6 linked regions of the Homo sapiens genome follow. The protein of the gene in region 5 purifies or fractionates together with the protein of the main gene of each other region. This does not show direct contact. Each region holds a gene or a part of one and is shown on either strand. Other genes may lie near its edges.

Evidence for each region.
Region 1: the proteins of CELA2B (region 5) and DGCR2 purify together in Homo sapiens (affinity purification with mass spectrometry; one large-scale study listed by BioGRID and IntAct). This does not show direct contact.
Region 2: the proteins of CELA2B (region 5) and COL4A2 purify together in Homo sapiens (affinity purification with mass spectrometry, with the first as the bait; one large-scale study listed by BioGRID). This does not show direct contact.
Region 3: the proteins of CELA2B (region 5) and PHAF1 purify together in Homo sapiens (affinity purification with mass spectrometry; 2 studies listed by BioGRID and IntAct, with this or other methods). This does not show direct contact.
Region 4: the proteins of CELA2B (region 5) and MAN2B2 purify together in Homo sapiens (affinity purification with mass spectrometry; one large-scale study listed by BioGRID and IntAct). This does not show direct contact.
Region 6: the proteins of CELA2B (region 5) and BCAS3 purify together in Homo sapiens (affinity purification with mass spectrometry; one large-scale study listed by BioGRID and IntAct). This does not show direct contact.

The regions. Positions count from the first base shown.
Region 1 is NC_000022.11:19,119,054-19,124,657, forward strand, and holds the start of DGCR2 (integral membrane protein DGCR2/IDD isoform 1 precursor), read right to left. Parts: upstream 3,360-5,604; 5' UTR 3,154-3,359; coding exon 3,075-3,153; intron 1-3,074. UniProt on the Homo sapiens protein: Putative adhesion receptor, that could be involved in cell-cell or cell-matrix interactions required for normal cell differentiation and migration.
Region 2 is NC_000013.11:110,484,205-110,489,306, forward strand, and holds part of COL4A2 (collagen alpha-2(IV) chain preproprotein), read left to right. Parts: intron 1-700; coding exon 701-823; intron 824-1,450; coding exon 1,451-1,632; intron 1,633-5,102. UniProt on the Homo sapiens protein: Type IV collagen is the major structural component of glomerular basement membranes (GBM), forming a 'chicken-wire' meshwork together with laminins, proteoglycans and entactin/nidogen.
Region 3 is NC_000016.10:67,143,670-67,148,771, reverse strand, and holds the end of PHAF1 (phagosome assembly factor 1), read right to left. Parts: intron 4,479-5,102; coding exon 4,396-4,478; intron 3,939-4,395; coding exon 3,895-3,938; intron 3,397-3,894; coding exon 3,353-3,396; intron 3,203-3,352; coding exon 3,144-3,202; intron 2,495-3,143; coding exon 2,422-2,494; intron 1,728-2,421; coding exon 1,641-1,727; 3' UTR 228-1,640; downstream 1-227. UniProt on the Homo sapiens protein: Plays a regulatory role in autophagic activity. In complex with BCAS3, associates with the autophagosome formation site during both non-selective and selective autophagy.
Region 4 is NC_000004.12:6,606,189-6,610,619, reverse strand, and holds part of MAN2B2 (epididymis-specific alpha-mannosidase isoform 1 precursor), read right to left. Parts: intron 1,514-4,431; coding exon 1,322-1,513; intron 823-1,321; coding exon 570-822; intron 1-569.
Region 5 is NC_000001.11:15,474,089-15,479,892, reverse strand, and holds the start of CELA2B (chymotrypsin-like elastase family member 2B preproprotein), read right to left. Parts: upstream 3,790-5,804; 5' UTR 3,768-3,789; coding exon 3,728-3,767; intron 3,437-3,727; coding exon 3,348-3,436; intron 1-3,347. UniProt on the Homo sapiens protein: Acts upon elastin.
Region 6 is NC_000017.11:61,390,040-61,394,382, reverse strand, and holds the end of BCAS3 (BCAS3 microtubule associated cell migration factor), read right to left. Parts: intron 2,407-4,343; coding exon 2,258-2,406; 3' UTR 1,552-2,257; downstream 1-1,551. UniProt on the Homo sapiens protein: Plays a role in angiogenesis. Participates in the regulation of cell polarity and directional endothelial cell migration by mediating both the activation and recruitment of CDC42 and the reorganization of the actin cytoskeleton at the cell leading edge.

The sequences.
Region 1 (5,604 bases), on a different chromosome or scaffold from region 5:
CAGACTGGAGTATCCACATGGAAAAAGATTCTGCACCCTCACCTAGAGGACCCTGGGACCTAACAGGGGACAGAGGCAGTCTGTGGCTCCACCTGGGGTTAAGGAAGCTGTTCAGAGCATAATATGAGGTACTCCTGTGGCTGGGCTGGAGACACACAGTTGGAGTGCACAGACCCCAGTCACGGGTGCATGATGGGGGGAAGGCCAGACTCCTACGATGAAATCTCATCTCAGCCTTAGCTTCATGAGTGCTCTGGATTTCAGCTTCCCCATCTTTAAATGAGGCTAAAAACAGCATCTAGCAGGGACCTCTTGAGAGTTAACATATGTTAGTGCTTAGAACAGTGTCCGGCACATGACACATCTTAAATCAAGTTCAAATGTGCACTTAAAAAAAAATTGCTGGGCATGGTACCTCAGGCCTGTAATTCCAGCACTTTGGGAGGCCAAGGCAGGTGGCTCACCAGAGGTCAGGAGTTCCAGACCAGCCCGGCCAACATGGCAAAACCCCATCTCTACTAAAAATACAAAAATTAGCCGAGCGTGGAGGCGTATGCCTGTAATCCCAGCTACTCGGGAGGCTGAGGCAGGAGAATCGCTTGAACCAAGGAGGTGGAGGTTGCAGTGGGCCAAGATCACGCTACTGCACTCCAGCCTGAGCAACAGAGCAGGACTCTGTCTCAAAAAAAAAAAAAAAAAAAAAATTGGTGAAAGGTCAAGTACAGCAAGCACTTGCTGCCCCATAACTCCATGAAAGGCCTTCCACCCTGCCCTGTACCAGAGAGGAAGCCCAGGTGGCTTGGCATCATCTTCAGGGACCCCACCAGGCAGGAGTCAGAAAACACCCTCCTGAGAAGTGGGCTCTGACTGATACCTTCCTCATACTCAAGTATGCTTTTAAGGCCGGAATCCCCACAGAAAGAACGCAGACTAAGACCAGAGAAGCCCCAGCCTCTTGCAAGCACCAGCCAGGCAGATCCCTGCAGCACTCTCAGGAAGGACACATGGTGAATGTGTGAAGAGGCACACACGGGCATACAAGGAACACATCAGGCCCAGAGGCCTGCCCTCCCTGCCCAGCCAAAGCCAGGAAGCCAGCTGCAGCTCCCGGGTTCTGCAGGGCAACTCAAGACGCCTCCAGGGGTAGCTGCAATGTTCTCATCTGGAGAGTCATGGAATCGAAAGAATAAGTTTGCTCCCTCTACCAGATCCACCCCACCCATGCCCTACTCCGACCTCAGTGTGAGGTCTCCTGTGACGCCCTCACTGCTTCACAGGTACAAAAAGATGGCCACCTCCACCCACCTCTGGGACCCCACACTCCAGGGTATTCAACACACAGGAGTGTGACAAGTGACTTACACCTGGCCTCTGTTCCACATCAGGCACTCCTAAAAGGAGGGGCTTGTTCTTGTCACTTGGATTCCCTAGGGATGGGCAGGGGGCAAGCACCCACAGGCACTTTCTCAGTTGCTGCTGGCCAGTTGGCAGGCTATGTGAAAAGGCTGGCAAGGAAAAAGGAGTCGGGGACGTCAGTCACCTCTATCACCCAGGCAGGAGATGCTGGGCCTGGAACCAGAGGCACCCCAAAGAAGCCAGGCATAATATGGCCTCACCTGAGCCCGGTGACCTCATCTGCAAAACTGGGACTCAAGAATCAGAAAACGGTGACCTTCTACCTCTCTACACGTACATATATGTTTTCTAAAGAAGTTAATCACAAGAATCCACAAACCCATTGGTTCTGACCTCCAAGAGCCTATATGATACCCTCCTCCACAGGTAGCCCTTTTCCTGGCTTCTGTTCTTACCAAGGCCACCCCACAACTAGTCATCCCGCTGCCCAGAGAGCAGCCAAAAGCAGTGAGCAACTAGCTCTACATGGGGAGACCAGAGAAGCATCACTGAATCTGTCCAGGTTGAGCACCGGTCAGGGCCTTGGCCACCAGGCAGGCACTAGGGAGGAGGCAGACATTCCACATAGATGACACAAGCGCAGAGCCAAGAGGTGCGGTGTATCTGGGCTGGGAGCCTGGCTAGGGCACAGGAGAGGGCCACACACCCCGTGCTCCCACACCCAGGTCATCAGAGAAGATGGCCCTGGCACTTCTGCCTTCATGGGACCTTTCCTCCATTAAGAAATATTAAGAGTCATGCTTTTTCACTGTATTAGTATAAAGATGACTGTATTAATATACATACGAAAACATTTTATTTGACCTAAAAGTTCATTTTTTTTCTGCTGACTTTAAAAAAAAATAAAATAACATTCGAAGGCTACTAAAAGTACCGTGGGCAAGTGATACCAGGATTCCTGTGCCTGATGGATACATCGGCCCTGCATTTAGGGAGTTTGATTTTTTGGTGCAGTTCAAGGGGAGGTACACCGAAATAGGTAGAAAAGGGTCTCCTGGTTGCCACGGTTCTGATTCCCCACCACAGACTTAAGAACACACTAGCTCCGAGGGGAGTTCCAAAGCACGGACTCATTCATCACATACACGCAGCACGGCTAAGGGCCCCGCACAGTGGCGAGGTCTCTGCTCCCGGGACGCTCGCGCCGGCCACACAACGCTAGGCTGACTCCTGGTGCCTCCTCTAGGCCCGGTGGGACCTGAGGACTTCCTTAGCGCAACGTCTCACTGAATGACAGCCACAACCACCGCTGTCCAGGCGAGGAGTTTCCAGGACTGAGAGGCTGGCACTAGGCCACTGCTGGGAGGACGTCTGTGAAACCAGGTGCCCCTGAGAGCCACTGTCCCCAGCCCGACTCCGACGCTGGACTGGCGAGAGGGTGCGCCCGTGGCGTAGCTCCTGGCCGCCGCCGCTCCCGGGAAGGGCCCAGAGGCAACATCCTGGACAGCAGAGCTGCACGAAGTCCGAGGCGCCGCGAGCCCAGGTAAGCTCCAGCAGGCGTCCGCAGAGAGTGCCAGGCGGCCCGCGAGCCAGGCCCCGCCCGCCCCTGCCCCAGGCGCGGCCCCTGCAGGAGGGCGCCGCGGGTGAAAGGAGGTCCCGGGGCGACCCCGGCCCCGCTCGCCGCCCAGCCCCCACACCGCCCCCATCGCGCGGCGCACCTGGCCGCAGCGGCTCGGTGACAGTGAGCACGAGCAGGAAGAGCAGCAGGAAGGCGCCGCTGTCTGCCTTGGGCACCATTTATCCTCCGTTCATCGTCCCCGGGGCGGCTGGAAGGCCGGACCAGGCCGGACTGAGGGTCAGGGGACCGTGCCAAGCGGAGGGTCAGGCGGAGCTGAACCTGGGCGAGGCGCGGAGAGGCGGCGGGAAAGAGCTTCGGCTGGGCCGCGGGCTGGCGCACACTCTCGGCTGCAACCTCAGGCACCGACTCCAGCTGCGCGCAAGATGGCGGCCGTCCTGCTCGGCTCCGCGCCGCGCCGCCCCGCCCCGCCTCCCGCCCGCGACGCAGGCGCGGGCCAATGACCGTCAAGATGGGGGGCGGGGCCAGAGCCAAAGCCCTCCGAAGAGGGTGAGGCCTAAGGTCGCGACGGCGGAGGGCGGGGACCTAAGGGCGGGGACTGAGGGGCGGGCTCTAAGGGAAGGGCGGGACCATACGGAGTGAGGCGTGCCATTGGTTAAGCAGAGAGGCAGGGCCGGGGCCGGGGCCTGAGCGGCGGGGCCACCGAAGGGAGTAGGGTCTCTGGACGCCGGTTAGGGACGGCGGGCGCGGGACGGCAAGGATGGACATCGAAAGGCGCGGGGCATGGGGCGGGGCGCCGAGGGGTCGCGCGGGTGGGGAGCGGAGAGAACGAAGTGGGAACCTGGCTGGGACTCCAAGGGTCTTCACACCTGCAAGCTCAGGTCCCGTGAGCAGCCCAAAAGTGCGCCCCAAAGGGGTCTTTTTAAGGCCGAACCGCTGTGGAGGAGGGAGGGCCTGCCGGTTCTGAGGGTGGGGAAAGAGGAACAGGAATGGCCTAAGAGAGTGTCAGGCAAAGAGAGACCGGGAAGGCCAGGTCCTGGAGACTGCAGCGAAGCCGGCTCCCTGGAGGACCTGCCTACACAATGGCTAGGGGAAGGCCACATGTGCAGGAAAGAAAGCTAGGCAGAGAGGAGGCTCAGCGCCCCTGCGAACAGTGCTCCAAGTGCCACTTCTCCCGTCATCACCAACAGGGTGAACCTTGGAGGGCAGTGTCGGCGAAGAGTCCAACTCTGTAAAATATTTGAAGACATTTCTTCTGAGCCAATATGTGACCAATAGCCTGGGACACAGCCCCAGGAGATCCTGACAAGTGCCCAAGGGGGTAGGGCCACAGCTTGGTTTTATACATTTTAGGGAGACAAGACATCAATCAGCACATGTAAGATATACATTGGTTCAGTCGGAAAAGGCGGGACAACTTGAAAGTGGGGGGTGGAGGGGGGCTTCTAGGTCATGCGGATTGGCAGTTGGTTCAAAGAGTTTATCTAAAGACCTGGAATCAATAAAAGGGACTGTCTACATTAAGGGGTTGTGGAGACCAAGTTTCTTAGGCAAATGAAGCCTCCAGGTATCAGGCTTCACAGAGAAAAGACTGTTAATGTTTCTTATTAAAAAGTGCCAGACTCTGCCGGGTGTGGTGGCTCACGCCTGTCATCCCAGCACTTTGGGAGGCCAAGGCGGGCGGATCACCTGAGGTCAGGAGTTCAAGATCAGCCTGGCCAACATGGTGAAACCACATCTCTACTAAAAATACAAAAGTTACCCAGGCGTGGTGGCACACGCCTGTAATCCCAGCTACTCAGGAGGCTGATGGCAGGAGAATCGCTTGAACCGGGGAGGCAGAGGTTGCAGTGAGCCAAGATCATGCCACTGCACTCCAGCCTGGGCAACAGAGTAAGACTCTGTCTCAAAAAAAAAAAAAAAAAAAAGGAAAAAAAAAAGGAAAAATAAATAAAAGGTGCCAGACTCTAGTTAATTCTCTCAGGAGAAAAGACCTTGAAAGGGATAGGGATTCTCTACAGAATGTAGATTTTCCCCACAAAAAACAGCTTTGCAGAGCGACTTCAAAATATGTGAAAGAAACCTGTTTTGCAGTAAAATATGTGTTTCCTTCCGGGCCTGCTGTCATGCTGGTATCTTACTGCCACAGAGTCTGTTGTCAGTCTTCAAGTCTCTGTGTCGATGTTACACTGCTTAGCTGTGCCTGAAACCTGAAGGGAGGAGGGATAATGAGGCCTGACTCCCACTTCCTATCACGGCCTGAAATAGTTTTTCAGGTTAAGTTTGGAATGCCCTTGGTGGAGAGGAGGGGTCCATTCAGATGGCTGGGGGGTTAGAGTTTTATTTTTGGTTTCCAGGAGACAGTAGTTGGGGTGTCCCCAGCGGGAAGGAGAAGGAGGCTGTCTGGAAGGAGGAGAACCAAGAATGCACAAAGGCCTGGCAGTGGGCAGTCAGCGTTAGGGAAGAAGGTGAAGGAGCAGAGAAAAGGGGGAAGGGCCACGGCAGGTGGGGACCCAACCCAACATGAGTGACAACCAGCCCGCCCTACCAAGTCATCCTGAGGGGCCCAGGGTTCCACTTGGCTCCTGTGAGAAAGGGGTGCTCACTCCCTCTAGGTGGATGAGGCCAAAGTCAAATCCAAGGCTAGGATAGTCATGTGACTCCTACTCCCC
Region 2 (5,102 bases), on a different chromosome or scaffold from region 5:
GGTGGGCACGCTCTGTGGGGTCAGGACCAATTTATGATTTTGATCCCATCAGCCTCTAGCCTAGTACTGAATACACAGTAAATGCTTAGAGACTGAAGCTCAATTATTTTCACTGAGCCAGATTTCACTTACTCCTCCAGTGAGCATGGATTCCGGGGCATCCCCAGCCTGAACTAGCACAGTTTCCCGCCCGGCCCGCAGCTCTGGGCCCCTCCCCTCCTGCAATTTCTCAGCTCCTCAGAACCCCCCGGAGACCTCCCTTCCATGCTTCTCCTCCCTGTGAAGGTGCCTACAGGAGGGCACGGAGCTGGCGCCTGCCTCACGGGCCTTCCTGCTTGTGACCGAGGTCCATCATGGTCTCATCAGAGCACACACAACAAAATGACCTTCTCACAAAGCATCCTATGGGAGTCACACTGGCTTTGACCGCTCCCTCTGCATCTGCTGGCAGGCACGTCCCCCTACTGTGGTGCTGTGTGCTCAGTGACACCAGCCCCAGGCCCAGGACCCTGGAGCCACCCCCAACTCCAACTACTCCGATGGACACAGGAGAGGCTTCTCCGGCGCCCTTGGTCTCTCTCCAAGGCTTCCCTGCTTGGGGGAGACGTGCAGCCCTATGGCTCAGGGACCAGGCCTTCACCTGTGTTCTCCTGCGTGGTCTGGAGCCCCCAGAAAATGACAGCACTCTATTCCCTTCCAGGCAGCCGAGGGGACCCTGGGCCCCCAGGACCACCTCCTGTCATCCTGCCAGGAATGAAAGACATTAAAGGAGAGAAAGGAGATGAAGGGCCTATGGGGCTGAAAGGATACCTGGGCGCAAAAGGTGAGGCTTCTGACCTGCAGCCAGGGGCCCCTAGTCCCTGCCGCCCCAGCCCGCACCAGCTCGTGCCCTTCTCCGTCCCCAGAGACGCCCGTGCCCTCCACCTGGCTTTCTTCGTGCTTTTCATCTCTGGGCGCCCTGTGTGTCCATAGCTGGCGCAGGGTTGTTCTCTGATGCCTGAGTAACCTCGGTTTCCCATCTTAAGATTTGCAGCACTGGCCGGGCGCGGTGGCTCACGCCTGTAATCCCAGCACTTTGGGAGGCCGAGGCGGGTGGATCACAAGGTGAGGAGATCAAGACCATCCTGGCTAACACGGTGAAACCCCGTCTCTACTAAAAATACAAAAAAATTAGCCGGCATGGTGGTGGGCGCCTGTAGTCCCAACTACTTAGGAGGCTGAGGCAGGAGAATGGCGTGAACCGGGGAGGCAGAGCTTGTAGTGAGCCGAGATTGCGCCACTGCACTCCAGCCTGGGCGACAGAGCGAGACTCCGTCTCAAAAAAAAAAAAAAAAAAAAAAAAGATTCACAGCACGTAGGACAGCAAAATGCATCCAGGCTGCAAAATTGAAAACTGGAGGGCGGGTGCTGCGTCCTCACCAGAGTGTTACACACCAGGGTCTTCCTGCAGGTATCCAAGGAATGCCAGGCATCCCAGGGCTGTCAGGAATCCCTGGGCTGCCTGGGAGGCCCGGCCACATCAAAGGAGTCAAGGGAGACATCGGAGTCCCCGGCATCCCCGGTTTGCCAGGATTCCCTGGGGTGGCTGGCCCCCCTGGAATTACGGGATTCCCAGGATTCATAGGAAGCCGGGTGAGTGGGCGTCTTTTACTCCCCTTGTTCTGTGAGCTCCTCTCCCCTTTGCTTGTGAATGGACATGCTTTGGTCTGGAATTTGCTAGGGTGAGAGTGTCAGTGGCAGGTTCAGGGCAGCCTCAGGCTTGGTGGGGTCCACACAGCCCTGGAAGGAGCTGCTGCACTTGGACACCATGCAGATGTGATGTGAGTCCAACCGGCTGCCGTGGCCCTTCTGTGGGCTTGTGCTGGGTGAAGCATGTTGTCTGCATTTTTCATGGTGGCCTTGAGAGAACAAAACTTGAATTTTCAGGGATCAGAGCTCTAAAATTGAGCACATCAGTGACACCAGGCCTGAGAGCCCATGGCCGAATCACAGCGTAGACCTGGGCCCGGCAGCCTGGCTTCCCATCCGGGCCACCGTTCACTCAGCCTTTGTTCAGCGGATGTCTGTTGAGCACTTGACATGGGCCAGACACGCTGTTGTGATGGTAACAATGGTGAGCCCTGACCCTGGGCAGGGCTCTCTTCTCCACACCTTCTCCCTCAGCTGCAGAATGAAGGTAGTAGCTACCTTGCAGTTTTCTTGAGTGCTGTATAGACAGTGTGTATAACATAGCACAGCGTGGCTCCCCATAGATTCCGTTTCCTAGAATTCCATTTCTAGCCTCGTTCATATGAAGATAGTGTATTCTCACAGTCCCTAGCACACGGCTGGCCTTCCCAGGGGGATGGGCACATTTGGAGCAGATCAGAAGGTCTGGGCCCCTTGATGTGTTTCAGTCGCGTCCGTGTGAAAAGACCACCAAACAGGCTTTGTGTGAGCAATCAAGCTGTTAATTTCACCTGGGTGCAGGCAGGCTGAGTCTGAAAAGAGAGTCAGCGAAGGGAGATAGGGGTGGGGCCGTTTTATAGGATTTGGGTAGGTAAAGGAAAAAGGGGGGTTGTTCTCTGGCGGGCAGGAGTGGGGGTCACAAGGTGCTCAGTAGGGGAGCTTTTGAGCCAGGCTGAGCCAGGAGAAGGAATTTCACAAGATAATGTCATCAGTTAAGGCAGGAACAGGCCATTTTCACTTCTTTTGTGGTGGAATGTCATCAGTTAAGGCAGAAACCGGCCATCTGGATGTGTACGTGCAGGTCACAGGGGATATGATTGCTTAGCTTGGGCTCAGAGGCCTGACAGTGTGAACCCTTAGTAGCAGGCCAGGGCCTGCCTGTGTGTCTGTCTGGCCCACCTTGGTGTACAGAATTCTTCAGGGGTCTTCCTCCCCTCACTCCCAAAATCTGCAGCTGAGAGTATCTTCTAGCCAGTCTGTGTGTGCTATTCAGGTCACTTTAAAAAAGAAAGATGCCAGCCAGGTGCAGTGGCTCTTGCCTATAATCCCAGCACTTTGGGAGGCCAAGGCAGGCAGATCACTTGTGGTCAGGAGATCGAGACTAGCCTGGCCAACAGGGTGAAACCCCGTCTCTACCAAAAATATAAAAAATTAACCGGGTTTGGTGCTGCGCACTCATAATCCCAGCTACTGGGGAGGCCGAGGCGGAAGAATCGCTGGAACCCAGGAGGCGGAGGTTGCAGTGAGCCGAGATTGCGCCGTTGCACTCCAGCTTGGGTGACAAAGCAAGACTCCATCTCAAAAAAAAGACAAGAAAAAAGAAAGATGCCTGTTTCTGCCAAAGACACCTACAACATCCAAAGGACCTTTATTCATAACAGCTCGAAACTAGGAAACAGCCCAAATGTCCATCAACAGGGAAAAGAATAAATGAACGTGGTATATTCTAACCAGACACAGCATTATCTGTGCATTTTATCTCCATACACAGCAATAAATGAGAATTCTTGGTAAAATCCAACAACCTAACTTCATTTCCAAACTTTATGTTGAACAAAATAAACCAGAAACAGAAAAGTACACGATTCAGTTTCATCGATGTGAAGTTCAAGAACTGACAAGGCTGTTAGATGGGGTATCGGGAGCACAGCTGCTTTAGGTGGGGTTGTCATAGAGTGCTGACAGTGTTCTGTGTCTTTCAGTGACACACGAGTTCAGATGCATTGAGCTGTGCGTTTAAGATGAGTGGACATTACTGTATTTAAGTTTTGCTTCAGAAAAGTAAGCTTTGAGAAAGAAAAATAGAGCATTACCTAAACAAAGGTGCAGCCTGTGGATACCCTCCCCCTTCCTCCCACAAAGGAGCTTTTGTTTTGTTTTGTTTTGTTTTTTGAGACAGAGTCTCACTCTGTCACCCAGGCTGGAGTGCAATGGCATGATCTTAGCTCACTGCAACCACTGCCTCCTGGTTCAAGCGATTCCCCTGCCACAGCCTCCCAAGTAGCTGGGATTACAGGCGCACGCCACCACGCCCAGCTAATTTTGTATTTTTAGTAGAGACAGGGTTTCACCATGTTGGCCAGGCTGGTCTTGAACTCCTGACCTCAGGCAGTCCACCCACCTCGGCCTCCCAAAGTGCTGGGATTCTAGGCCTGAGCCACCACCCCCGGCCTAGCTATATTAATACTGCAGCGACTCATGTTAGGCCATGCTTGTACATTGATGCTGTAGTACTAAAGTCCCAGTGGCACCCAGGTAGACCAGAACTCTCATGCTCCCTCTGGGGAGGAAGCCACTCTGGAGGGGAAAACTAGGGCTTCCAGGAAGCCACCGAGCAACTCAGGCATCTTCTCAATTTCCTTACCAGCCACCTGTGTCTTTCTGGAGAAGTCTCCCTCTGTGCACAGATGGAGGCGCACAGCCCCATATCTGTGTTATAATCTGCAGAGAGCAAGCTCTGCAGTCTGGCTGCCCAAACTGAAATCCCGGTTCTGCCACTTGCTGGCTGAGTGACCTTAAGCAAAACCTTTCTGTGCTTCAGTTCCTTTGCCTGTCATTGGGAAGTAACGGTGCCTGCCTGGCAGGGTTTTCATGAGGCGTGAATACGCTCTTGAGACGGGGTCCACCATGTGCACGCGGGAAAGCATGGTGGAGCGAGGATGTAGTCAGAGTCACCGCCGCCGCTGACATCACCACACTGTCGTGATGGAGACCTGGGCCACTGATGCTCTTCATTATGATGCAGTTGCCAAGCTTGTTTCATTGTATCACTTCACAGTTCCATAAGAACAGCAAGGCCAGGTGCAGTGGCTCACGCCTGTAATCCCAGCACTTTGGGAAGCAGAGGAGAGAGAATCACTTGAACCCAGGAGTTCAAGACCAGCCTGGGCAACAGAGCAAGAGCCCATCTCTACTAAAAATTTAAAAACTATTAGCAGCCAGGCTTAGTGGCTCACACCTGTAATCCCAGCTGCACAGGAGGCTGAGACGGAAGGATGACTTGAGCCCAGGAAATCAAGGCAACATTGAGCTATGATTGTGCTTCTGCACTCCAGCCAGGGTGACAGACTGCGATCCTGTCTCAAAGAAATAAATAAATAAATAAACAAAAAGAACAGCTAAGCAAACCGCCTATGATACACACTAAAAAACAC
Region 3 (5,102 bases), on a different chromosome or scaffold from region 5:
CCAGGTGTGGCTGAGCACCAGGGATGGAGCCACACATAAGGGACAAATGAGTGCACGGTCCTACCTAGTCTTTCCTCACCTCCTGAACTCACACAACAATGCCAGTCTCCCACTGGAGGCTGTATCCCCTCAGAGGAGCCAAGGAATGTCTTCCCCTGAGATGCCACCACTATTAATTTCCCCATATGCTTCAACCACCCCCTTGCTCAAAAAACCAATACCCACACTTACCTTAATACAAACATCCCAGCAACAGCACATGGCAGGCCATTGCTGAGGGCACAGGTGCTTTATTGGAGAGGGGATGTGGGCAGGGGATAAGGAAGGTTCCCCCATTCCAGGAGGATGGGAACAGTCCTGGCTGCCCCTGACAGTGGGGATATGCAAGGGGCTCTGGCCAGGCCACAGTCCAAATGGGAAGACACCAGTCAGTCACAAAAGTCGGGAGCGCCACACAAACCTGGCTATAAGGCCCAGGAACCATATAGGAGCCTGAGACAGGTCCCCTGCACATTCATCATTAAACTATACAGGATGAGGCTGTACATGAGTTAATTACAAAAGAGTCATATTTACAAAAATCTGTACACACATTTGAAAAACTCACAAAATTGTCATCTATGTATCACAAGTTGCTAGACCAAAATATTAAAAATGGGATAAAATTATACATTTTTCTTCTCAGTTCTTTTCAAAAGGATTAATATTTTTAAAGCACATATATGCTACTTTCCATTAGCAAGACCCATGAAGGGACTGAGCAGCCCAGCCTTCCTTGAGCCCCCAGAGGCTTTGAGCCATGAAATGGCCCAGCCAGGGGCCAGTGCCCAGGGTTGGGGCAGAGAGCCAGCCCACAGTGCAGAACAGAATGCTGAAACACAACAAAAGTAGGAAGATGTCTTTGGCTAAAACTTTGGCATTAAATAAAAGAGGCAAACAGGATGGAAACATGCAGCCCTGCCAGCCAGGATGGGGCAGAGCAGGGGCACAGGCAATCTTGAAAGCTGACTCCAACAGGGGTGAGAACCAGGCCTGGGCATGTACCTGGATGGTAGAAAGCTGTGTTTCAACCAGTTTGGTGTGCCCAGGCAGGGAGCGCGTGCAAGAAAGGAACAGGGAAGGGCAGGTGGGCCACCCTGGCCACAGCCAGCTCATCAAGTAACTAAAGTGGATGTAGTGCAAATGTCGCAACCAAGTACTATGGACACGCTACCTGCTTGCCTTAAGGGTCATGTGGCAATGTGGAGCCAAAGGCAGGACCTTGTCCTTATCCTGGGTGCCTGTGTCCTCAGTCACAGAAAGAGCCCCAAGTCTTCCCAATGTGCATGGGACAAGGGTTGACCTCTCCTGCCTCCTTGTTAGTTGAGAGCTCCTGGGTCCAGGAATCAAGGCTCAAACTTTGTGCTTCTCTTTGCAGTCTGTGTCCCCTGCTGGCACCAGCAGGCCAAAGATGGACAGAAGAATATCTGGGCCACTCAGCCCATGGCAGAGCACCCAGCCTGAGCCCAACCTCAGAACATCACAACAGCCCTTCAGCACTGGCCAGGTGTCCAAGAAAACCCACAGGGTGGTACAGAGGCCCACTGAGCAGGATGTGATGCACAGTTCCACGGGACAGAGGGGCATGGGTGGTGGTGTCCCTAGGGGAGTTCCGCTGTTCTCAGGTGGCTACCAGGCCTGGGGGGGCCATACAGGGTCACCGAGGCAATGTGGTTGTTCTGCATGACCTGGTGTGAGAAGAGGACAGTGGGTCAAGGGGGAGAGGTAAAGGGATGTAGGCAGATCCTGTGCATGAGGGCTGGAGGTTGTGTGACATACCTGCACCTAATGGCTGGGTTTCCCGACTCCTCAACCTCCCCTGGTTCATGCTAAAGGCCCCCCTCTGCCTGAGATCTGCCTGTTTCTCAATGGTTACACACAGCCTTTACCATGGCCACGTGTCCAGTCCTTCTGGAACTGTTAAGTGTCTGCTGGAGATACTGCATCCACAGGGAAAACAAGGGCAGCTTGCTGTTCTCCCAAGTCAGCAGGGCCTCCAGAGCCACTCACTCCCCTACAATGCATTTGTTCACATGCCACTGGAGGGCCCCCAACACCCTCTGCTGGGCCCCACTTGCCCTGTGGTTCCCTTCCCTGCTATAATCATGTTGTCAGATAGAAACTTGGGATCCGTTACCTCCCATCTTGTTGGACACAGACCACTGCTTCGGCCTCTGTGACCCCAGATTTCTCAACATCATTTCTGAACCTTCATTGTTAAGTGTGGGGAGGCCAGGTATGCAGCAGACACGGTTGCTGAAGAAGGATGAATCTGCCCACTATGGCAGTGATGCCCTCCCCAATTTCCCTCCATCATTCACCTGGCCCTGCCATGACCAGCAACCCCCCAGGCAGTTTATTTCTAGGGCTTCCACAGCTTACCTCAAAGATCATTCGCTGAAGACCAAAGCAGAATGTGGAACCAAATGGGTTGGTGTTGTTTGGGGAGGAAGACCTGAGGCCAAAGAATTCAGAATTAGAGAGGCAGACAGAGGCCACGGCCTTAAAGCAAGGGATCCAGTCTTTTCTGGGGTATGGGATACTGGCCAGTAGTCTCTCATGGCTGTGAGTGTCTGTCTGTTTCCCACACAGGCCTGCAAGATCCTAGGGGTAGGGATGGTCTCACTCAACTCAGAATTATACATACAGAGCCCAACAGGACAAAAAAGTTACTGTGGAACTGGACTAGGGTGGCGAGGAGTCAAGAGGGCCCTCTTGAGTGAGAGAATCTCAGGCAGCATGGCAACCAGGAACGGGGCTGTGGACTTCAGCAGGCAGCAGCTCAAAGCTCAAAGGGAAAAAGAGCCCAGGCCAGCCAGCCAAGCCCTCCTTCCTTATTGAATAACTGAGGGTGAGAAGGCCCCCATACCTAGAGGTAGGCTTGGGAGAGGGGAGCTACCCCTGGGGACATTCTCTCTATCAAAGATGAACACACAGAACAGTTGACTCAGTCCTAATGTGCAGAGTGGGGCAGGAAGTATGCTTGTGGCAATATCAGAAACTTCTGTAATTTTTAAGCAACATCCACTGTGCCAGGCTTCCCTGGGCTTTCTGGGCTCTGAGGAGTCAGGTGGGGTGGCCGGGGACATCAAACTCCCACTCACCTGTGCAGGACAACAGGCTTCTCCACAGGGTGGCCCAGGAGCTCCTGGATGTTGTCCCACTGCAAGAGGGATAGAGGGGAGCAGGGGTTAGTAGGGACATGAACATGTCTGTGACCAATGGCTGGCCTAGAGGACACAGCCCCATACTGCCTGCAGGCTCATGTCCACCTCATTCTCAGGCTATGCCAGGTAGGAAGATAGGTGCTCACCTTGCTGTAGGTCGTGCATGTTTCTGTCTGACCATCTGCGTTTTCTGAAAAGAGAAGACAGTGGGGCAGATTTGTAGCTGGCCCAGCCTACCTGTGGCCCCAGCCCTAGGTAGGAACCAGACCTGGTGTCCCTTTGCACTGGGGTTGGAGTACATGGGGAGGATTAACAGGCTGTTTTGGAGTTCCAGGGTGGAAGAGGATGGAGGGGTGAAGGGAGGTCAGTCAGGTGTGAGCAACAACAATTGGCAGTGGGTGGCAGGCAACAAGGATGGGCTGGGGCCCCCTGGATGATCATCTGTAGATAAGAAACTCTCCCCTCCAGAGGCCGGCAATCCCACAGTCATAGGAAGAGGCCTCAAGGGCCTCTAGGAGACTCAGACCAAGAACACTGCAGCCCCCAGAACAATGAGCCCACCCCAGAGGAACTGAGGCCATGGGCAGAAGCTCCACACATCCAACCACTGCTTCGATCTTTCTCCCTTTTCATAGTGGAAAACAGACTCTAAAACCCCTCCCTTACCCTGAGAGCTTTCACTACTCACCTTTCTTTATGGCTAGTGGGATCTTGAACTCACAGCGATGATAACTAGAGAGAAGGCAAATGGGTAAAGGCTGGGCCTCCTAGAAGGCCTGGCCACTCCCATATTCCAACCCCACACCCCAGGAGAAACAGAACCAAACACACCTGCCCAAAGCCCTGGCTCTGAGTGCCTGACAGTGTTCACTGGGGGAGGCCAGATTTAGGCACGGAAGTCGAACAGAAAAGATCTTGGCCCTGGGTTCTGGAGAGCCTATTACCTTGGATAAGACATCAAGCTTTCTGAACTTATTTCCCTATTTGTAAAATGGGTTCAAACAGAGAGATGTAAGGCATTGGACCCTGTGCCAGGAACACAGCAAGCACTCAGGAAATTCACTTCCCATGAAACAGCAAGAATTCAGGTGTAGATAAATTAGTGAACACCCAAAGCCAAAAGCTCTTTCCTGGGGTTTTCAGCCCAAAACTCACTTCACAGAGGGGAGGTACAGACAGGTGTACTCACATGTTGAAATTATAATGCCCAGGGTAATTGGTGTGTAGAACAAACTTCTTCACTTTGTGTGTATTCGCATCAAAGAGGATGTCCTGGGATAGAAAACAAGGGTACTCAAGGAGGGAATGTTACTGAGGCAGGGCAGAGGCCTTTCCAAAGGCATGTCCAACTTGGGACATCCAGTGCACTCCACAGCAAGAATGCCTGCAGGCATCACCTTTCTTCCAGACAACAGTCCAGGGGACAGGCCAAGCAGCTTTTAGACATTTTCTTTCTTCTTTTTTGAGATGGAGTCTCACTCTGTCATGGAGGCTGGAGTGCAGTGGCACTGTGTCAGCTCACTGTAACCTCTGTCTCCTGGGTTCAAGCAATTCTCCTGCCTCAGCCTCCCGAGTAGCTGGGATTACAGGCGCCCACCACCACGCCTGGCTGTTTTTTTTTTAATTTATTTTTATTTTTAGTAGAGACGGGGTTTCACCATGTTGGCCAGCCTGGTCTCAAACTCCTGACCTCAGGTGATCCGCCCACCTCGGCCTCCCAAAGTGCTGGCATTACAGGTGTGAGCCACCGTGCCTGGCCCCATACCTTATCTTTTCTGTCATGTGTGTTACCTCTCAACACACTGTACTATCCATTTTAGCTCTTTGTCCTGCTAAGTGGCTTTCTTCCCTCTGAATATAAGCTCCGTGAGGGCAGGGTTGTCCGTCTGTGTTCTT
Region 4 (4,431 bases), on a different chromosome or scaffold from region 5:
ATGAAGGAGCCATTTTACAGGAGAGGAAACCGAGGCACAAGCCAAGGCACATACTATTCTTGTCTGTGGTAGCACCAGAATTCAGACACCAGTCTGACTCACAGCCTGCACGCTCAAGCCCTGAACGGGCAGATACACAGGCTTTAAAAGAATTCTCTCTGGAGGCCGGGCGCGGTGGCTCACACCTGTAATCCCAGCACTTTGGGAGGCTGAGGCGGGTGGATCATCTGAGGTCAGGCGTTCAAGACCAGCCTGGCCATCATTGTGAAACCCCATCTCTACTAAAAATATAAAAATTAGCTGGGCATGGTGGCAGGCGGCTGTAATCCCAGCTACTCGGGAGGCTGAGGCAGGAGAATCGCTTGAACCTGGGAGGCAGAGGTTGCAGTGAGCCAAGATCGCTCCATTGCGCCCCAGCCTGGGTGACAGAGTGAGACTCCATCTTAAAAAAAAGGAAAAAAACATTCTCACTGGAGGCCTCTACTGGCCTCTACTGCTGCAATTTGATGCTTAATGGGTCCAGGAAAGGCGCCATTGGGAGCGTGCCTTGTGGGCATTGCAGGACATACCCGGGCGATGCTGTTGTTCACATAGGAAACGTAGGGCCTCCGCTGCATCTGGTAGCCGTTGTTGTCTGAGTAGATGACCTGCTGGCTGTTTAGGTTGGTGCTGGTCCTCAGGACAGCCTCACGGTTCAGCTCCAGGGGGCCGGCTTGGTACTCCTGCTCTATCCGGTGGCAGAGCAGCTCCCCGTCATGGCCCTGCGGCACATGGGTGAGCCGGGAGCGGATTGCATACGTGTAATTCTGTGCTGTCATGTTCCTGGAGGAGAAGGGAGCATCAGTAAGTGAAGCTCCAGGAACCTTCTAGATGCTTCCTTTTTGCTTCCCTTCCTTCATGTGGGCAGGGTGGGCAGGGCAGGGTACGCCGAAAGGCAGGGAGCCTTCTTGGGCCATGTGGACAATAGCACCACCCAGGACCCCGAGCGGCTGGGAGCAGCCTGGTTCCCCGACACCGCAGGGCTGCCATGCCGGGCCTGCCTTACGTCTGCTCTGATCATGGAAGAACAGGTGCTCTGTGGGCCCCAGGGTCTGTGGGTCTCTCTCCCAGCTCTGAACTTAGCTCCCAACCAACGTGACACAGCACACGCAAACGCAGCCAGCATGCAGACACCAGAGCAATTCATTTCTTCATCAGACCACGTGTCAACCACGGCCCGGAAGCTGGGGTTCAGAGCAAAGACAGACCCTCATTCACTGAGCTGCCTGCACGCGTGCGCTGACTGTGTGCCGGGCTGTGGGGGTCACCCCAGGGGAAGCACCTGTAGAAGTACTGCCGGATCTCAGTCACAAGCTGTCCCGCCACAATCTCCATTTCCACAGCTTCCCACGCAGGCACCGCGGCCTTGCCCGGTGTGAACAGGTAGTTATCGGAAATGGGGCCCTGTTTCACATCCCCGTTGACGTGGTACTCCAGGAATTCCTGGGTCACGCGCACCGTTCGGTTACTCTGTCTGCAGAGGCAGGAGAGAGAAGATGTCATTCTCATCCTGCACAAGGTCTTACAGACACCGGCTGGCAAGCCTCTCTCTCCAGATGCCATCTGAGTGGCCTGCGTAGCACTCACGAGGCCATGTGACTCAGCTCATCTAGAAGCCCTGAGACCCCACCCACAGCCAGTGTGGCCTTAGACTCCATGCTGTCCCAGAATGGGTCACAAACGAGGAGACGGACAGAGCCTGCAGACAGGAACCGTGAGCCGTCAGCAGAGGGCACCCCCAAGAGATGGAACTGGCTCACCCAGGCTGTGGTCTGCAAGCGAAACCAGTGCAGGAACGGGCTTTTGTCATGCTGACTCTGAGCTGTCCAGCAGGACACCCATGTGTACAGACCCCATGTCATGGGCCAGAGCCTTCACTGACTTCACCTGGTTAAATTCTCCCAACCCCCAAAGGCAGGGACTGTTAACCCATCCCACTCCCGAGGCATCCGAGGCTGGAAGTTGTGACATCATGTACCCAAGATCACACATCTAGGAAGTGTGCAAGCCAGAACTCAAATTCAGCCCCGACTTTAAATTCTGTGCTCCCTCCCTTCTATTAGGATGTTTGTGTTAGGACAGAGGATGGGAGAAGAGCAGGAGGGGGTCAAGTATTTTAATTGTAAAATGCAATATTTGGCCTAACCAAGTGCACAAGTGATGTATTTGTATCTGAGTCTGGCCTGGCTGTGGGCGGACAATGAGGTGGATGGCCTCTGCACCCACTTCTCTGTGGGATTGTGGTGAGGGTGGGGAAGGAAAGGGAGGCAGGCTGTGGAGGGTTCTACTGAGTGCTGGTGGAGGAGGAGAAAGAAAAGAATTGAGGCCTCTGGCCCTGGACCCCTTCCCCGCACGATCCTTTTAAAAAGCTCCCCCAGGGGCCATCAAAAGAGTAAAAAGACAAGCCATGGAATGGGAGGAGGGATTTGCAAATCATAAATCTGACAAGGGACTTGTAGCTAGAATATATAAAGAACTCTTACAACTCAATAATAAAAGACAAGCCAATTTAAAAATAGGTAAAGGATCTAAAGACACATCTCACCACAGAAGATATGCTAGTGACCAGTAAGTACATGAAGAGATGCTCAACACCATTAGTTAGCAGGGAAATGCAAATCGAAACCATCATGAGATGCCACTTCTCGCCCACGAGAATGGCTATAATTGAAAAGACAGAAAATAACAAGTGTGGGCGAGGATGTGAAGAAATCAGAACCCTCATCTGCTGCTGGGAGGAACAGAAAATGGTGCAGCCGCTTTGGAAAACGGTCGGGCAGTTCCTCAAAGAGTTAAACATAGAGTTAGCTTGTGACTGAGTAATTCTACTCCTAGCTATGTACCCAGGAGAAACGAAAATGTATGTCCACACAAAAACTTGTACATGAATGTTCAGAGCAGCATTATTGATAGTGGCTAAAACGTGGAAACAACCCAAATGTCCATCAACTAAAGAATGGATAAACAAAATATGGTACATACATGCGATGGAATAGTATTCTGCCATGAAAAGGAACGAAGTACTGATACGTGCTACGATACTGATGAACCTTGAAAACATGCTAAGTGGGTTGTGGGTTGGGCATGGTGGCTCAAGCCTGTAATCCCAGCACTTTGGGAAGCTGAGGCAGGTGGATCACTTGAGCTCAGGAGTTTGAGACCAGCCTGGGCAACATGGTGAAACACCATCTCTGCAAAACACAAAAATTAGCTGGGTGTGGTGGTATGCACATGTAATCCCAGCTACTCAAGAGGCTGAGGTGGGAGGATCACTTGAGCCCCAGAGGAGGTTGAGGCTGCAGTGAGCCATGATTGTGCCACTGCACTCCAGCCTAGATTACAGAGTGAGACTCTCTCAATCAATCAATCAATCAATAAAAAGGGGGAAAAATATGTGAAGTGAAAGAAGTGAGTTGCAAAAGGACCACATATTGTATGAACAGGTAAATCCATATAGACAGAAATAGTCTAGGATTGCCAGGGCCCGTGGGGGAGTGATTGCTCAACAGCATGAAGTTTCTTTCTGGAGTAATGAAAACGTTCTAAAATTGATTGTGGTGATGGCTGCACAACTCTGTGAATGCACCAGAAACCACTGAATTGCCCACTTTAAATGGGTGAATTGTGTGTTATGTGAAGTGCATCTCAGTCAAGCTGTTACATAAGGAACAGAAGCGCTCCCTTCAACCCACACTGCCCTGGGGTTGGTGTCTGCACCCTTGGCTTCCCACCCCAGGCCTCTGCACAGGCTGTCTCCTTCCTATGGAGCAACCTCCCCTATGCCCTTCGAGGCCTGGGGCCTGGCCCCAGGTGTCGTCTCCCGATGGCCCCTACTCTGAATACCAACAGCTCCTCCTTTCTGCTCAGGTGACAGGCACTGGTTTTGCAAGGCTTACCCCTGGTGGGGTTTTGGGAGCCCAATAAGAACTCCTTTGTCCTCACTGGAGTTCAAAACAAGAGAGACAGACAGGGCCACAAACGGGACAGGACAGCCTGAGCTCCAGTGCTGGAAATGCCGGGTGGGACCCTGGCTTAGGCATGTGGGGTCCGTGGGCTGCCCTAAGGGGCATGTACAGAGGGGGCATGGGGCCTGAGTGAGGAACGGACAGGGCACATTCTGCCTCTCCTGGCCTAACCTGGCAGGCTTGGACCATGCTGGGGTTTCTCCCATTTCTGCAGCTCCTCTGCCCAACTCCCCCCTTGCCAGCCACCCATGCTGGCTGCTGTCACCCCTGCACCTGCCCCACTTTCCCTCAGGAGCCACTGGGGAAAGATGAGGACAGACCTGACTGGGGCCCCATTCCCAGAGAAGTCCTGGAGCTCTGTGGGCAGGGAGCTGCTGACAGTGACCTTGAGCTGAGCTCCCCTGATACCCACCTCAGTACAAATGCC
Region 5 (5,804 bases):
ATGCAGTTCTGCACATACACCAAACCCGCTTCTGCCTCAGGGCCTTTGCACTGGCTCTTCCTCCTCCCTGGAATATTCTTGCAAATATCGGCGTAGCTCTTTCCTTCACTTCCTGTCAGTCTCTGCTCAAGGTTGCCTTCTCCATGAGGCCTTCTGTGACCACGCTATCCCAAACAATGTGCACACACACATGCGTGCACGCTCATGTACATATGCACACACAGACACACTTGTCTCTTTCCCCTTACTCTGCTTTACTCTTCATAGTATCTTTCGTTTTCCGGCGTGTTATTAGTTTACCTATTCAGTTGTTTATTGTCTCTTCCACTTTATTTATTTTATTTTTTGAGATGGAGTCTCCCTCTGTCGCCCAGGCTGGAGTGCAGTGGCACGATATTGGCTCATTGCAACCTCTGCCTCCCAGGTTCAAGCCATTCTCCTGCCTCAGCCTCCCCACTAGCTGGGATTACAGGTGCCTGCCACCATGCCCTGCTGATTTTTTTTACTTTTAATAGAGACGGGGTTTCACCATGTTGGCCAGGCTGGTCTCCAACTCCTGACCTCAGGTGATCCACCTGCCTCAGCCTCCCAAAGTGTTGGGATTACATGCGTGAGCCACTGTGCCTGGCCACGTCCTTGTTTTTAATTAGCCACTGGGCATTTCTCGTTTTTGTGACATTAAGGGGCCTTAGATGAACTGGCTTTTAAAAAGATGCTTAAAATTGGACCAAGTGAAAAAAGACACTGAAAAGTATCTACTCCCCCACCCCAATTTAAAAATGTGCTGAAACCATCCTACAGATGGGAAATTTCGTCCACGTAATACGTATTATTTGTGGCCAGCAAAGTGTAGCTAAAAGAACAAGCACTGAACCAGATTTGAATCCTCATTCCCCCCCGGGCTAACCCAGTGCCTTTGGGTAATTCTGTAACCTTTCCAAGTCCCAGTTACCTTCTCTGGAAATGGGGAACATAAGCCACGGTGCAGGGCTCTCAGGGTGATTAATAACTGTAATTACAATAGCTGGCTGGGCAGGATGGCTCACACCTGTAAGCTCAGCACTTTGGAAGGCCGAGGCAGGTGGATCACCTGAGGTCAGGAGTTTGAGACAAGCCTGGCCAACATGGTGAAACCCCGTCTCTACTAAAATACAAAAAAAATTTGCTGGTGTGGTGGCACACATCTCTAATTCTAGGTACTCAGGAGGCTGAGGCAGGAGAATTGCTTGAACCTGAAAGGCTGAGGTTGCAGTTAGCTGAGACTGCGCCACTGCACTCCAGCCTGGGTGACAGAGTAAGACTCTGCCTCCAAAAAAAAAAAAAAAAATGCATTAAAATATTATTCCTCTTGGCTGGGTGTGGTGGTTCACACCTATAATCCCAGCACTTTGGGAGGCCGAGGCAGGTGGATTACCTGAGGTCGGGAGTTAGAGACCAGCCTGACCAACATGGAGAAACCCTGTCTCTACTAAAAATACAAAATTAGCCGGGCATGGTGGTGCGTGCCTGTAATCCCAGCTACTACAGAGGCTGAGGCAGGAGAATCACTTGAACCTGGGAGGCAGAAGTTGTGGTGAGCTGAGATTGTACCATTGCACTCCAGCCTGGGCAACAAGAGCAAAACTCTGTCTAACCAAAAAACAAAAACAAACAAACAAACAAACTATATATCCCAATATATATATATATATGCCTCAGCCTCCCAAGTAGCTGGTATTACAGGTGCCCGCAATCATGCCTGGCTAATTTTTGTATTTTTAGTAGAGGCAGAGTTTCACCATGTCCAGGCTGGTCTTGAACTGCTGACCTCAAGTGATTCACCCACCTTGGCCTCCCAAAGTGCTGGGATTACAGGCCTGAGCCACCACGCCTGGCCTATCATGGACAGTCTCTTAATCAAAGAGCAGATGAATGAACGCTGGCCTCTCTAAACACAGTGACTGCTGCATAGGTCACTCTGAATGCTCAAGGCTAGTGGGCTGCTAGTTGCTCCTTCTACTTAAATTAGAAACTCATCCTGGTTCAGCTGGGTTTGCTCCTAAAGCAGTTTATATCAATTATGTTTGCAATAGTGAAATTTGATTAAATATGTAACCAATGAAATATGAGTTCAGAAAGAGAGTTGTGAAACAAAGTTAAATGCTTGGAAGAGACTGAATACCATGATTCCTAAAAAATTGCTCTTGAATTAGTGTCTTTGAGGAAACAGAAAGATTGGGGGGAAAAGTCGTAAAAGTCGGGATGGGCTCGTAACTCAGATTGCTTTATGAATATCTCAAAGTTATTGCTCTGCTTTAAAGAAATGGACTTGTAGATGAGATATTATGGGGCATGGTTTATATGAAAAAGACAGTTAAGAACTCAAAAAATTGTTTACATAGTCTAAAATAAAATGTTTACAGCATATATGATTTAAAATAATTTCTTTATAACCAACTTTTCATTTAGTCAGTCCCAATTATATCAGATAAATGAGATTTTACTATATTTGTTTGCGTCAATGTAAACTTTACACATTTCTTTTGAAATTCCCACCGTTAACACGTCTTAGTAATTTGTGCCTGTGCCCCACTCGGCAGTTTAGTCTTAATATCACTATTATATCAACTTAAGAAACATTTATTTTCCTTGGTAACATTGATTTGCCTGTAGTTAAAGATGAATCTGCATGAATAGCACTGATTGGTTCCTTAAAGCAAGGAATATTTGCATAGGTAGTCTTGAATGGTTCATAGGATAATGGTACATTTGAAAGAAAGCCTCTGATTGGTTAACAGAGTAAGACTATAGTTGTAAATTTGTTTATGGGCAGTGGGGAGGGGACAGCTCTTTACTGCAGCTGGAGGAGGCACCTCTCCCTTCACTCCCAAGGTTGGCCAAGGCCACAGAAATGTATCTTTTTCTTTTTTTTGAGATGGAGTCTCTCTTTGTTATTCAGGCCGGAGTGTAGTGGTGCGATCTCAGCTCACTACAACTTCTGCCTCTCAGGTTCAAGTCTTTCTCCTGCCTCAGCCTCCCGAGATGCTGGGATTACAGGCGTGTGCCACTGTGCTTGGCTAATTTTTTATTATTAGTAGAGACGGGGTTTCACCATGTTGGCCAGGCTGGGCTCAAACTTCTGACTTCAGGTAATCTGCCCACCACGACCTTCCAAAGTGCTGGGATAACAGGCATGAGCCACTGTGCCCAGCTGGAAATGTATCTTGTTGGTGAAGTTTCCTGTGCTGCTCTCTGAATCCCATCAATCCTAACTTTGCCAGCACAATAGACGCCATGGTGGAAGGGCAAAGGGGGGATGTAAAGGGAGTGGGGCAGGGACGGGGAGAAGTACAGTGTGGTCAACTCACCTGCCAGGGCCAGCTGTTGGGCCTCGCTTCTTCACCTCCAAGCATCCTAGACATATCAGGCGCGTAAGTGGAGACCCCACAACTGAGGGCTGTGAAAAGAGAAAGGGTCTTGAGTCCAGGAAGCAGCGACCCACACAATGTAAACTATACATGCTGCATTCTGAACCCCCAAATAGAAAACCCTTGTTCTAGAAGGATCCCAAGAGGTCATAAAATCCTTCTGTTTGCTCCAATTCTTTGAAACTCCATTTCGGTTTTCTTATGATTATAGGTCTGAATGCAGTAGGGGTTGGGTGGGGGCGAGAGGGGAGGACAGGAAGATCCCATTTCCAGCCCCACCAGGGGATGGGAAACCAGTGCCTCTGGGTGACAGGACTTACCTCCAGCCACCAAAGTGGACAGCAGCAGGGTCCTAATCATGGTGTGTCCGTGGGAGTTCTGTAAGCGTGGCCCTGGATAAGGCCCTGGTTTTATGAGCAAACTTATCAGTGAGAGATACACTAGGAGCACGCAAGATGGGGATTTTCTCAAAGCCCAGTGGAAAAAAGAGCTTGTGTCCAAATTTTTTTTTTCCATTTTCTCCCAACTGTCACCCTAGAAATACTTTGAGAAGATGCCAAGGGTAGATACTGGAATATGAGTTCCATCTGTTTTAAAGAGATTATGTTGTGTATTAGGGAAGGAAGAAAAATACTAATTGTTGGTCCTTGGAGTTGTGTTTTCTTTTCTTTTCTTTTTTTTTTTTTTTTTTTCCCCTCCTTGGGTAAGACTGAGGAGAGGAGTTGTGTTTTCTTTCTTTTTTTTTCTTTTTTCCTTCTGAGATGGAGTCTTGCTCTGTCACCCAGGCTGGAGTGCAGTGGTGCTATCTTGGCTCACTGCAACCTCTGTCTCCTGGGTTACAAGTGATTCCCCTGCCTCAGCCTCCCTAGTAGCTGGGATTACAGGTGTGTGTCACCATTCCTGGCTAATTTTTGTATTTTTTAGTAGAGACAGGGTTTCGCCATGTTGGCCAGGCTGGTCTCAATCTCCTGACCTTAAATGATCTGCTCGCCTCGGCCTCCCAAAGTGCTGGGATTACAGGCTGAGCCACTGCGCCCGGCCAGGAGTTGTGTTTTCAATGAAAAGATTAAGGTGGCATGCTGAACCCACAGCGTTCTAAGGCAGTATTTCTCAATGGGGCTGGTTCAGCCCATCAGGAGACCTTTTGACAACATCTGGAGACATTTTTGGTTGTCATGGCTGGGGTTGATGTAAATTGGCATCCAGTGGGCAGGGAGCAGAGACGCTGCTAAACACCCGACAATGCACTGGGCAATAGGACTTGCCCTGCCCCAAATGTCAATGGTGCTGAGGCTGAGAAGCCTGTTCTAGGTCATACCAGGGGTTGCAGTGTGACCTTGGCTGAGTCATGTAAGTCTCTAGACCCATCTGTGAAACAGGGAGAGAAGCCCATGCCCAGTATTGTTTCACAACATTGTGGTAAGGATTTGTATAATGCGGGGAAGGTGCACATGTAGCAGAAGGCAAGGCCGACATGCACAATTAGGATCTGGCCGCTCTAATGATGGGGGGAAGCAGAATGCTGGCAGAGGAGGGCTTCATCTGGTGGGTGAAAATGCACTTTATGGCCGGACGTGGTGGCTCACTCCTATAATCCTAGAACTTTGGGAGGCTGATGCGGGCGGACCACCTGAGGCCAGGAGTTCAAGACCAGCCTGGCCAACATGGTGAAACCCCGTCTCTACTAAAAATACGAAAATTAGTCGGGTGTGGTGCTGCATGCCTGTAGTCCCAGCTACTCAGGAGGCTGAGGCAGGATAACCTCTCGAACCTTGGAGGTGGAGGTTGCAGTGAGCTGAGATTGCACCACTGCACTCTAGTCTGGGCAACAGAGCAAGACTCCGTCTGAAAAAAAAAAAAAAAAAAAAAAAAAAAAGGACCAGCCTGGACAACATGGTGAGACCACCTGTCACTACAAAATTTCTTTTAAAAAGTTAGCCAGGTGCGGTGGCACACGTATGTGGCTCCAGCTACTCTGGAGGCTAGGCCGAGGCAGAGGGTCACTTGAGCCTGGGTGGCAATGGTTGCGGTAAGCTGCAATCGATTCTCCTGCCTCAGCCTCCCGAGCAGCTGGGACTACAGGCGCCGGCCACCACGCCTGGCTTATTTTTGTATTTTATTAGAGACGGGGTTTCACCATCTTGGCCAGGCTGGTCTCAAACTCCTGACCTCGTGTTGGCCCGCCTCGGCCTCCCAAAGTGCTGGGATTACAGGCATGAACCACCGCGCCCAGCCGAGTTCAAGTCTTTGATCCATCAATTTTGAGTGTGGTGGTCTGGACAAGCCACTTATCTTCTGGGCCTTAGTTTCCTAGATAACCATCCAGGCCTGGATTGCAGGATTGTTGTATGGGTAAGAAAATGGGTGGGAAAGAATTCTGTAATCTCCCTAGGATGG
Region 6 (4,343 bases), on a different chromosome or scaffold from region 5:
ACCTCCCCAATTAGCCGGAGGCCAGGCCCAAGGCCTTTCTGATAACCTGAGCTCCAGTGGCAGCCGCTGTGGGGCCAGCTTATCTGGTCTCTCTTATCCTCACCCTTCCCCCACATACTCAAAGAGTTGCCCTGACTTCAAGCAGATGAATAACCAGATTGTCCTGCAAGCTCAGCCGGCAAGTCCAGCCCTACACCCACCACTTTCCCTGCCTGGGGGAGGCCACAGCTGTTTTGCCCCTGCTGGAGGGGAAGGGCCGGGCCAGGGAGGACTCCTGACTCTGTAAGCTGCCAGCCAGTTCCCTGAATGGTTGAGAGAGCCCCTGGCAGCAAGGTCTCTGCCACATCCACGTGTCCTGGGGTGGTTTCAGAGGGGCTCATGCTTCCTAGGGCAGCTGAACCCATCCCCAGGAAGACAGGCCATGGGCAGCATGCACAGGTAGCCTGGTAGCACTCTCCTCCTTGTCCCTTTTTGATTGAAACATGGCTGTAGCTGGGGGTAGGGGCAGTGCCAGGCCCATCAATAATTCAGCAAGATGGGGAAAAGCTGCAGCTCCTCCAGCACCCCCTGCTGCTGGGGCCAGGCTAGTGTTCGCAAGCATGCCTCAGTCTGGCATGTGACTTCTCGCCCTGCAGGTGCCCTGGCAGGAGGGACTGGCTTATGCCACCCTGTGCAGGATCGTCTTCTCAGCTTACAGAGCCTAGTGTGATTCAACAACCCTCCATCTCTGCCCCCAACATGCCCAACTGATCTGGTGGAGGGAACTGAAGATGAAGGCCTCTCAGGCACCATGGATGGGATGGGTGTGTGTGAAGGGGGCAGGGTCCCCAGGAGCTGCCCCAGGTCTGGCTGGACAGTTGCACGGGAAGTCCTGTTTGTGAACTCAACGTTTCCACGGCTTTTCCATTAAACTTTACCCCAAATCACACCTGGCTCTGTGGGTTTCCTTCCATTCTCCAAGGCCTCCCTGGGGTCTCTGGGAAGTGTGGGCCAGGGAAGGGGGCAAAGGACTAGCATTCGTCTCCTTCCTGCTCAATGCACCATTTTTTCTCCCTGTTCCTGTCTCTGTTGCCACTTACTTTAGGTCCGGAAGTGGTGGTGGTGGGGCGGGGGGACAAAATCAGGAACGTGTCATCTGAGGGTTCCGGCCAGGTTTCATGAGATACCCACCTTCACCTGACCACCCTTCCATCTTCTGAGTTAAAAAGAGGCAATTACAACAAGGTGCCCCCCAGATGAGGCTTTGCCAGACTCTCCCCTTGACAGCAACCCACCAGCACATGGCAAGCCCTGATCCCCAGGGAGGAGGGTCCAACCCTGTGGCACCCCAAGAACTCATTGCCTCTGGTAACAGGCAAGATGCTTAGAGAATGGGCTTCTTAAATCAGGCCCCATCCAAATTCCAGGACAAAAGTTCTTCCCATTCCAATCCTCCACTGACTCCTTCTGCCCCCAAGTTGCACATGAAAGGGGGTGTTGGGATCCTGGGCACTCAGGCCATAGGACTCTGCTCAGCATTTGGAGAGGACCCTTACCCCAGCAACTCAGGGATGGACACCAACTGCAGCGTGATTTATTGGACAAGACGTGCACTTTTCAACAGGGCCTCAGTAACCACGGTTTCCTTCACTGATCAGTACAGGACCAGGGTAAAGGGGCTTAAAGATAAGAAAGACAAACTCTTCCCATGAACAGATGGGGAAAGAAAGGAGGAAGAAGAGGCATGTCCTCCCTTCCTCCTTCCCTAGTACTCTGGGCCTCCGTTCACCCCGTGCTGGAGTGGGGCTGACCAAGGGAAGCTGGGGGCAGTGTGTGTCACAGCCAGACATGAGCTGAGGCTGTGACTGTCCACTCAGGGTCAAAATGGCCAGGTGGACGATCAACTCTGTCCCCACTCAGGCCCCCAGATCTGGTCACTGTTCCAGGCTCCCCCCACCCGCCCCACCGTGGGTATGGTTAAAAAATACAAAAGCGGATCCAATGCAGGATGTCATATGCAAACATACACAGGGACCGAGCTTCTACAGTCTCTCCTGGCCACAGCCTCCACCGACAGGTGTGGCAGAGGGCAAGTGCGCTGAGGTGCTTGGAGAAGGGTCTCTTCTCCATCCAGGTAGGATGGGCGGCTGCTGTCACTAAGCTTGGGGAAGGTGGTTGATGAAGGAAGAGCAGAGACTGAAGGGTAGGACCAGAGCGGGGCTTCTCCCCTCCTCCAGCAGGGGAGGGGGCTGGCCAGTCAGAAGCAGGTTGCTGGTACCTACGGGAAGCCAGTCGGGAAGAGGCTGAGGGGCTGGCTCTCATTGGTGGGCAGCGGAGATCGGTAGCCATCAAAGTTTCTTGGTATGCTGCCGCTGGTGGAGCCTGAGCTGTTACTCAGAGTCTCGATGCTTCCCTCTCGCTGAAGTTCTGCAAGACACAGGAGAGGGCCAGGCCTGGTTAGAGTTGGGTCTGGGGAGTGGGGGCACCATCTGGGCCAGGCTGCCTGCCTTGAGGCACCATTCTGGGTTCACTTGTGTCCTTCCGCAGGGGGATCCCCGCCTGCTCCCTGGATGGGCAGGGGGCAGCTCAGGTCACAGGAAGGCTCAGCCAGGGGAGGGAAAGCCCCCTGGCTGGCAGACTCTGGTGTGAGAGCACCGTCTCCCTGCTGCGGGAAGCCCTTTAGGCCCGAAGCACGGCCACCCTGACGATGTGTGTGGACTACACAGCTCTTCATGAGCCCGTACCCACGCCTGCACACACTCATGCTCAGCCAGCATGCCCCCAACTCCACAGTGCCTTCTGTCCCGGCTCTACAGGGGAGGCAGGCGGGGAGAAGCTAGGACACGGGAGGGCTTGCAGCATCCCTGCCTGATCTGTCCCCACCTCTCTCCTGCCCTGCCTGTGCCTAGAGCTTCTGCCTGGCTTTGCCACTCACTCATTCACTCATGCTCACCCACACAGTCCATCTGCTGGCCAGGTCTTGGCTCATCTTTGGCACCTCCTGCCAAGTGTCCTGTTTCCCTGGGAGGGGATGCCTGGTTTGAGAGGGGCCTGCTCCAATGAAGAGAGGGTCCCTGTCTGCCTGAAGTGCCTCCTTTCTCCTTTCCTCTTAGGCCCCAAGTCTCCTGGAGGCCCCTCAGCATCAACCTGAAGGGCAGGCAGGGAGTCCCGCCCTCCTCCTCCTCTGCCTCCCTGGCCCTGCACATCCATGTTGCCACCTCAGATATGGCAGCTTGATCCATCTAATTCAGCTGTGGGCCGCTCAATTGTCCTACCATCTCTTGACCCAAGTCAGGTCCTGGGGTAGGTGGGTTGGGAATGGAATTCCCTGCTTGCTGAGTGCAAGGAAGAACCAATTACTTCTTGGCTTTTTGAAGGTGGTCAGTTCCGATTCCCTTTCAGTCTCCCCCGGGGGCTCTGACATATGGGCACACACACACCGGGCAGTCTCTGGAGCCTGCCCCAAGCCAAGATATGTAGACCTGCAACCTTTCCTTCTCCAAGGGATGCCTGCCTGTGACTGAAGGAGTCTGGCCTGTCCACCCAGGAGTGCAGGACCTCAAAGCAGTCACTTGAAACAGCAAGATGTGCAAAAACGTTGCACTCGTCTGGTCTGGCTTGAGACCTTGGTCTTCATCCTGCAACCGCTCCCAGGCCCCCTGCCACCACACGCGCAGTACAGCCGGCTCTGGTTAGGGAATGAAGGGGTCATGGCCTTCACTCCTGGGCTGGCCAACACCAGCCAGCCAGCAACGAACCACTGACCCCGACTCCCTGCAGGCCTGCAGCAGCCACAGAGTGGAGTGGGGAGGAGGCGGGCACCTGGGCCTGGGGAGGGGAGGGGCCCTTGGGATCCATCAGCCGAGTCTGTCGCCGGGGTCTCGGTGGGACAGTTCACTGGGACACCAGGGCTTCTTGGCAAATTGGGGAAAGTAGGGGGATGGGACTGTGGACAGGGACCGAGGGCCTGACTATGGTCCCTGACCTCCAGGGGACATTGGCTGCCTGGGAAAGTCAAGAGCTATCTGGATATGGATAGAAAACAAGGCAGATAGGATCTTTTTCTCCTGCTCCTCCTTCAGTATCACCCTAATCTGGGGGGACAGGCCATCGTGCCATGAGATGGAGAGGGTGGTAAAGCCAAGAGTAGACCCTGGGGATTTTACATGGAAGCTCCAGACTCCAAGAGACCCCTCTGTTGCCTTATTTCCCCAAAAGCAAGCCGAGGAGTTGTGGGCGATCTGTCCCACCGCCCTCATGCGCGGCCGGCCCGGCACTAGGGGGCGCTGACAGCAGGGCCAGGCGGGCGGGAGAAGAGCACCGGCAGGCGCAAGAAAAGCAGGGGCTTCCTTAGGATCGGGCCG